Linked DNA regions of Homo sapiens: region 1 is linked to region 2. The links come from fine-mapping of genetic effects on gene expression. A gene starts in region 2. The other region holds a variant in brackets. All regions are shown on one strand. Distances are between the middles of the regions. Region 1 overlaps P2RX7 (purinergic receptor P2X 7). Region 2 holds the start of P2RX7 (purinergic receptor P2X 7).

The links. PIP is the estimated chance that this variant, and not a neighbour inherited with it, causes the effect.
Region 1: its variant is fine-mapped to the expression of P2RX7 in whole blood (TOPMed, PIP above 0.99). The same link has a PIP of 0.9 or more in prefrontal cortex.

Annotation. Positions count from the first base shown.
Region 1 is chr12:121,170,733-121,173,647 of GRCh38, forward strand. The region is part of intron 8 of P2RX7 (purinergic receptor P2X 7); the gene reads left to right. All of the region lies in intron 2 of LOC105370032 (a long non-coding RNA gene), which reads right to left. Among named protein-coding and RNA genes, the nearest start is that of P2RX4, 38 kb to the right of the region's middle. The variant C/T (reference allele first, on the strand shown) is at 1,198.
Region 2 is chr12:121,131,650-121,134,564 of GRCh38, forward strand. P2RX7 (purinergic receptor P2X 7) reads left to right here and starts at 1,227. Exons shown (of 13, transcript NM_002562.6): 1 at 1,227-1,446. The coding sequence starts at 1,322. The region is part of intron 2 of LOC105370032 (a long non-coding RNA gene); the gene reads right to left.

The DNA.
Region 1 (2,915 bases), 39 kb after region 2:
CACTTCACTCCAGCCTGGGCGACAGAGCAAAGCTCTGTCTTTAAAAACAACTTAAATAAATAAATAAATTGTTGAGGTCTGATGAGTAAGTGGACAAGTTATTTTCCAGCAGACACACAAAAGAGAAGGAAATTACAGGTTATACGAGGTATTTCAGAAAATATAACTTTCTAAAACATAGGAAGTTGAAGAAGTTGATCACATTACAGAATTCTGTTGTTTAGAAAATGACCTGTGGCGAAATGTCCTTATTCAGTGAATAGGTGATTCCGCTTATGCACGACCTGTGTGAAGTGGATCAGGCCACCCAGAATGCACGACGCGCTTCTCAGGCCCAGCAGGAGTATGTGTCTGTGTTAATTTCCTGTGGCTGTTATGACTAATTGCCACAAATGTGGTGGCTTAAAACAACAGAAATTAATCTTCTTATAGTTCTGGAAGCCAGAAGTTTGGAATCAAGATGTCAGCAGGGCCACACTCGCTCTGATGCTCTACGGGAGGGTCCTCTCTTGCCTCTTCCAGCGTCTGGTGGCTCCAGGCATTCCATAACTTTATAGCAGCGTCCCACAAATCTCTGCCTCCATCCTCACATGGCCTTCTCCACTGTGTCTCTATGTCTTCAATCTCTTTTTTTTTTTTTTTTTTTTTTGAGGCAGGGTTTCACTCCAGTCTCCTAGACTGAAGTGCAATGGCGTAATTTCGGGTCACTGCAACCTCTGCCTCCCGGGCTCAAGCGATTTGATCTCTCCTTTATCTTATAAAGATACTAGTCATTGGATTTGGGGCTTACCCTAAATCCAGGATAATCTCATCTTGAGATGTTTAACTTAATTATATCTGCAAACACTGTATTTCCAAATAAGGTCATATCACAGCCACTAGGGATTAGATACTTGAACATATCTTATTTGGGGGCTCAACCCATTCCAGTGTACGAAAAACACTCTTGTTCAAGGCCCGATGTTTCTCAGGGCATAGCCCACTGACTACCTGCATCAGAATAATCACTTGGTACCTGTACTGGAAATACAGACTCCTAGAAACATCTCAGAGCTTCTGCAACCACTCTTTGAGTGAGGGGCTCAGGAGTCTGCCTCTGAACACACTCACCCCAAGTGATTCTTTCTTTCTTTTTTTTTTTTTTTTTGAGATGGAGTCTTGCTCTGTCCCCCAGGCTGGAGTGCAGTGGCGTGATCT[C/T]GGCTCACTGCAAGCTCCGCCTCCCGGGTTCACACGATTCTCTTGCCTCAGCCTCCCGAGTAGCTGGGACTACAGGTGCCCGCCACCACACCCGGCTAATTTTTTGCATTTTTAGTACAGACGGGGTTTCACCATGTTAGCCAGGATGGTCTCGATCTCCTGACCTCGTGATCTGCCTGCCTCGGCCTCCCAAAGTGCTGGGATTACAGGCGTGAGCCACTGCGCCCAGCCATCACCCCAAGTGATTCTTGCCTTCAGTTTAAGAGCCACTGTAACAAGACTCTGGAAGCAGAAATTCACGTGCTTACTACACAATGTTAACCTTCCCAGGCAAACCAACTCACATAGGGAGATAATGCCAATCCCAGGGCAGGCAGTGGCAATGCATGCTTGCTTGCGAATTAAAAAACAAATCACTGCCTGGGCACGTTGGCTCATGCCTATAATCCCAACAATTTGGGAGGCTGAGGTGGGTGCATCACTTGAGCTCAGGAGTTCAAGCCAGCCTGGGCAACACAGTGAGACCATCATCTCTATAAAAAAATTTTAAAAATTAGTCGGGTGTAATGGTTTGCACCTGTAGTCCCAGCTGCCGGGAGGCTGAAGTGGGAGGATGACTTGAGCCCGGGAGGCGGAGGCCACAGTGAGCTGTGTTCAAGCCACTGCACTCCAGCCTGGATGACAGAGCCAGATCCTGTCTCAAAAAAAACAAAAACAAACAACAACAACAAAGATAAATCACTCAATACATCAGCAAGAGAAAAAGCTCTCTTGAAATAGTCACATGCAAAGAAATTGAATTCCCTCCAGTCAGAAAGAGCCACTAAAGTGCCTGAGAATATCTGATCGATTTCAATGTCAGGTTTTGAGAGGTTTTTTAAAAACAGTTTCAGATGTTTCTTACTATTTTTTGGCAGAACATCTGCCATCTGCTTTCTTCTCTCCCTACATCTTGTAACTAGACGGTGAATTAATAACTCAGAAAAAATAAACATGTATATGTAACTTTATCTAAAAAGAATCATCAAAGTGTGGTGAGAAGAAGGGGCAGATTTAAAAGTTTTATGAAGCGTTCATTTTAAGCCTCCTTAATTATTCTTGAAAAACAAAACACACCACTTTTCCTGACTGCAGCACTGGTGAGGGTTGCATATCACGGGTGACTGTGATGATTTGTGCCTGGCGCTTAATTTTTAAAGTTAGTACTGAGTGATGACAGAGAGAGGTCAATGCCACTCAAAGAATATTTTGTTTGTTTGTTTGTTTGTTTGTTTGAGAGGCAGTCTTACTCTCTCACTCAGGCCGGAGTGCAGTGGTGTGATATCGGCTCACTGCAACCTCTGCCTCCTGGGTTCAAGTGATTCTCCTGCCTCAGCTTCCTGAGTAGCTGGGATTACAGGCGTCTGCCACCACATCCAGCTAATTTTTGTATTTTTAGTAGAGATGGGGTTTCATCATGTTGGCCAGGTTGGTCTCAAACTCCTGACCTGAGGTGATCTGCCTACCTTGGCCTCCCAAAGTGCTGGGATTACAGGCGTGAGCCATTGCACCTGGCCAAGAAGAATTTATTACATACTTTTCCCAAGAGATGGGGCCACACCACACCATACCAGGCCATACCAGGCCATGCCATGCTAGACAGGGCCACAGGAGGAAGTACCAGATCCGCTCAAGAGGCAGAATAAAGGGTAAAGAATGGTCCAGAGCTTTATTGTGTT
Region 2 (2,915 bases):
ACTGAAAAACTGAAAATCTACCCGGCCACTTAGCAGGCTGGAATAACAGAAAGGGATCAAGCCAGCTGTAAAGATAACAGGGAACAATAATTCTCTGTAGCTGTAAAGTGATAATACAACCCTGCATCTTTGAGTGACTGCTGAAACATTGTCCTTTAAAATCAGAGACCTTCAGAAACTTTGCTGTTTGAAATTACATGACTAAGACTGAAATATTCCAATTTTGCCTGGAAGATTTAAGTCATCTTGACACAGAGAAGCAGCCTCAATTTACAACTCAGGAGCAGAGCTTCAGATAAAGATTTTCTGGACACATTTGACATGTATCTTAGCTATGTTGCTTCCTAGGAAACAGGGCCCTGGGTCCTCTTTGCAATCCAGACTGAAGTTGACTGCTTTGTACAAACCTGTTTTGCTTTGAGTCCATCAAAACATGACTTCATTTAGATTTTATCTCAACTCCACTTTCCTCGGAATCCTATAATAAATTGCTGTTTTCCTTTGTTTGGTGATGTGCGTAGCTCTTCTGGTGGGTGGTGTCCCTCACTGAATAGGTCAACAAACCTAACTTTGTTGGACTGCCACTGTGTCCCTGGTGATCTTTGGCTGATTGGTCTAGGTCATAGATCGACCTGCCGGGGTGCAGAGGAGGGTGGAGAGTAACTCAGAGGGTCAAGCATGAAAGATCTGGCAGAAAAATAAAGCCCCTCCACCCCCACCACCCCTACCCCTGCAAATCTGATTTCCCCCACCAACTGCAGACCAGAGTATTATAAGGGGCGGTGGAAGAAGAGGGGGAGATCTTCATTTACCCAGAGCTCCTATACATCAGGGGCTGAATAAAGGGTTGTAGAAATGAATGAATCAATCTCTGAGTGGGGCTTCAGGCAATGGAAAGATCTCAGTCCTTTTCTGAGGCATAATGGAAGCTCCCAGTCTTGTGACATTTGCAAGGCTGCCCCTTTCTCCCAAGAGACATGAGACCAAAAAAGTGAAAGGAAAGGGGGGAAAAGGGAGAATTCTAAAAATGCCCATCCTCTGAACACCATCTTTGTGTAGGCATCTGGGGGAGGCCAGCTGGGGTGAGGTCATCTGCCAGCCAGGCCCGTAGGACTTGGCGCTTCTTGTTTATCACAGCCACATGTGGGGCCACTGCCAGGGCCCGCCCCAACTCTGCAGTCATTGGAGGAGCTTGAAGTTAAAGACTCCTGCTAAAAACCAGTACGTTTCATTTTGCAGTTACTGGGAGGGGGCTTGCTGTGGCCCTGTCAGGAAGAGTAGAGCTCTGGTCCAGCTCCGCGCAGGGAGGGAGGCTGTCACCATGCCGGCCTGCTGCAGCTGCAGTGATGTTTTCCAGTATGAGACGAACAAAGTCACTCGGATCCAGAGCATGAATTATGGCACCATTAAGTGGTTCTTCCACGTGATCATCTTTTCCTACGTTTGGTAAGTGGGATCTGGGGAGGACCCAGATCTCTGCAGTGGCCGACAGCACAGAAAGCCCCAGCGGGCAGCTTCAGGTGCACATTCTGAATCTCACATGGTTTTCGAATCTGAGACGTGCTCTCACAGCCAGCTGGGCGGGAGGGAGGAAGCAGCAGCAGGCAAGAGGAAACGGTGCCAGGCTGCAGCAGAGAGAAGCCACAGGACAAGCGGGATTCCTTTCTGCTCTACTTCAGGCCCGCCAGGGCGCGCAGGGCAGGGCGTGCCTGGGGAAGGTAGGAAAGCGCAGGGCAACACCCTGGATCCCCAGGGAGGAGGCGAGGATCTCAGGGCACGCCTGGTGATCATGCTGGCATCTGAGTCACCATGCTTGGGAGGAATAGGACCAGGCTTGAAAATGTGTTATAACTTTAGGTCCTCACCAACGTCAGGAAGGCCCTGCTTTTTGGTTTTTGTTTCTTCTAAAAGAAACTTACTGAGATATAATTTATACACCATACAATTGACCCATTTAAAGGGTACCATTTAATGATTTTCAGATTATTCCCAGAGTTGTGCAACCATCCCCACAATCAATTTTAGAATATTTTAATCGACTCAAAAGGAATCCCACACTCCTTCACCATCATTTCCAACACTGTTCCTCCTCCTTCCCACCCATCAATTTCCTTTCTGCCTCTATGGATTTGCCGATTCTGGACATTTCATATAAATGGAATCACATAATATGTGGTCCTTTGTGGCACTTAGCGTGTTTTCAATGCTCATCCATGTTGTAGCATGTGTTGATACTTCATTCAATTTTTTTTTTTAAAGAGACGGGGTCTCACTATTTTGTCCAGGCTGGTCTCAAACTCCTGGACTCAAGTGATCTGCCTGCCTCGGCCTCCCAAAGTGTCAGGATTACAGGCGTGAGCCATTGCACCCGGCTGATACTTCATTCCTTTTTACGGCTGAGTAGTACTCCATTGCATGGATAGACCACTTTTTTCTATCCATTCATCCATTGATGGACATTGGGGTTGTTTCTCTTTTTTGGCTATCATGAATAATGCCACATGAACATTTGTGTACAAGGTTTTATGTGGATATATATTCTCCTTTCTCTCGAATATGTACCTAAGAGTAAAAATTGCTAGGTCATATGTTAACTATGTTTCACCTTTGGGGGGAATGTGGAGCTGAATTTCACAGCAGCTGCAGTTTTTTACATTCCTATCAGCAGAGTATGAGGGATCCAATTTCTCCACATCCTCACCAACGCTTGTTATCGTCTGTCTTTTTGGGTTTTGTTGTTGTCATTTTGTTTTTGTCTTTGAGATGAAGTCTTGCTCTGTTGCCCAGGCTGGAGTGCAGTGGCGCAATCTTGGCTCACTGCAACCTCCACCTCCCCGGTTCAAGCGATTCTCCTGCCTCAGCCTCATGAGTAGCTGGGATTACAGGTGTGCGTCACCACTCCTCACTAATTTTTG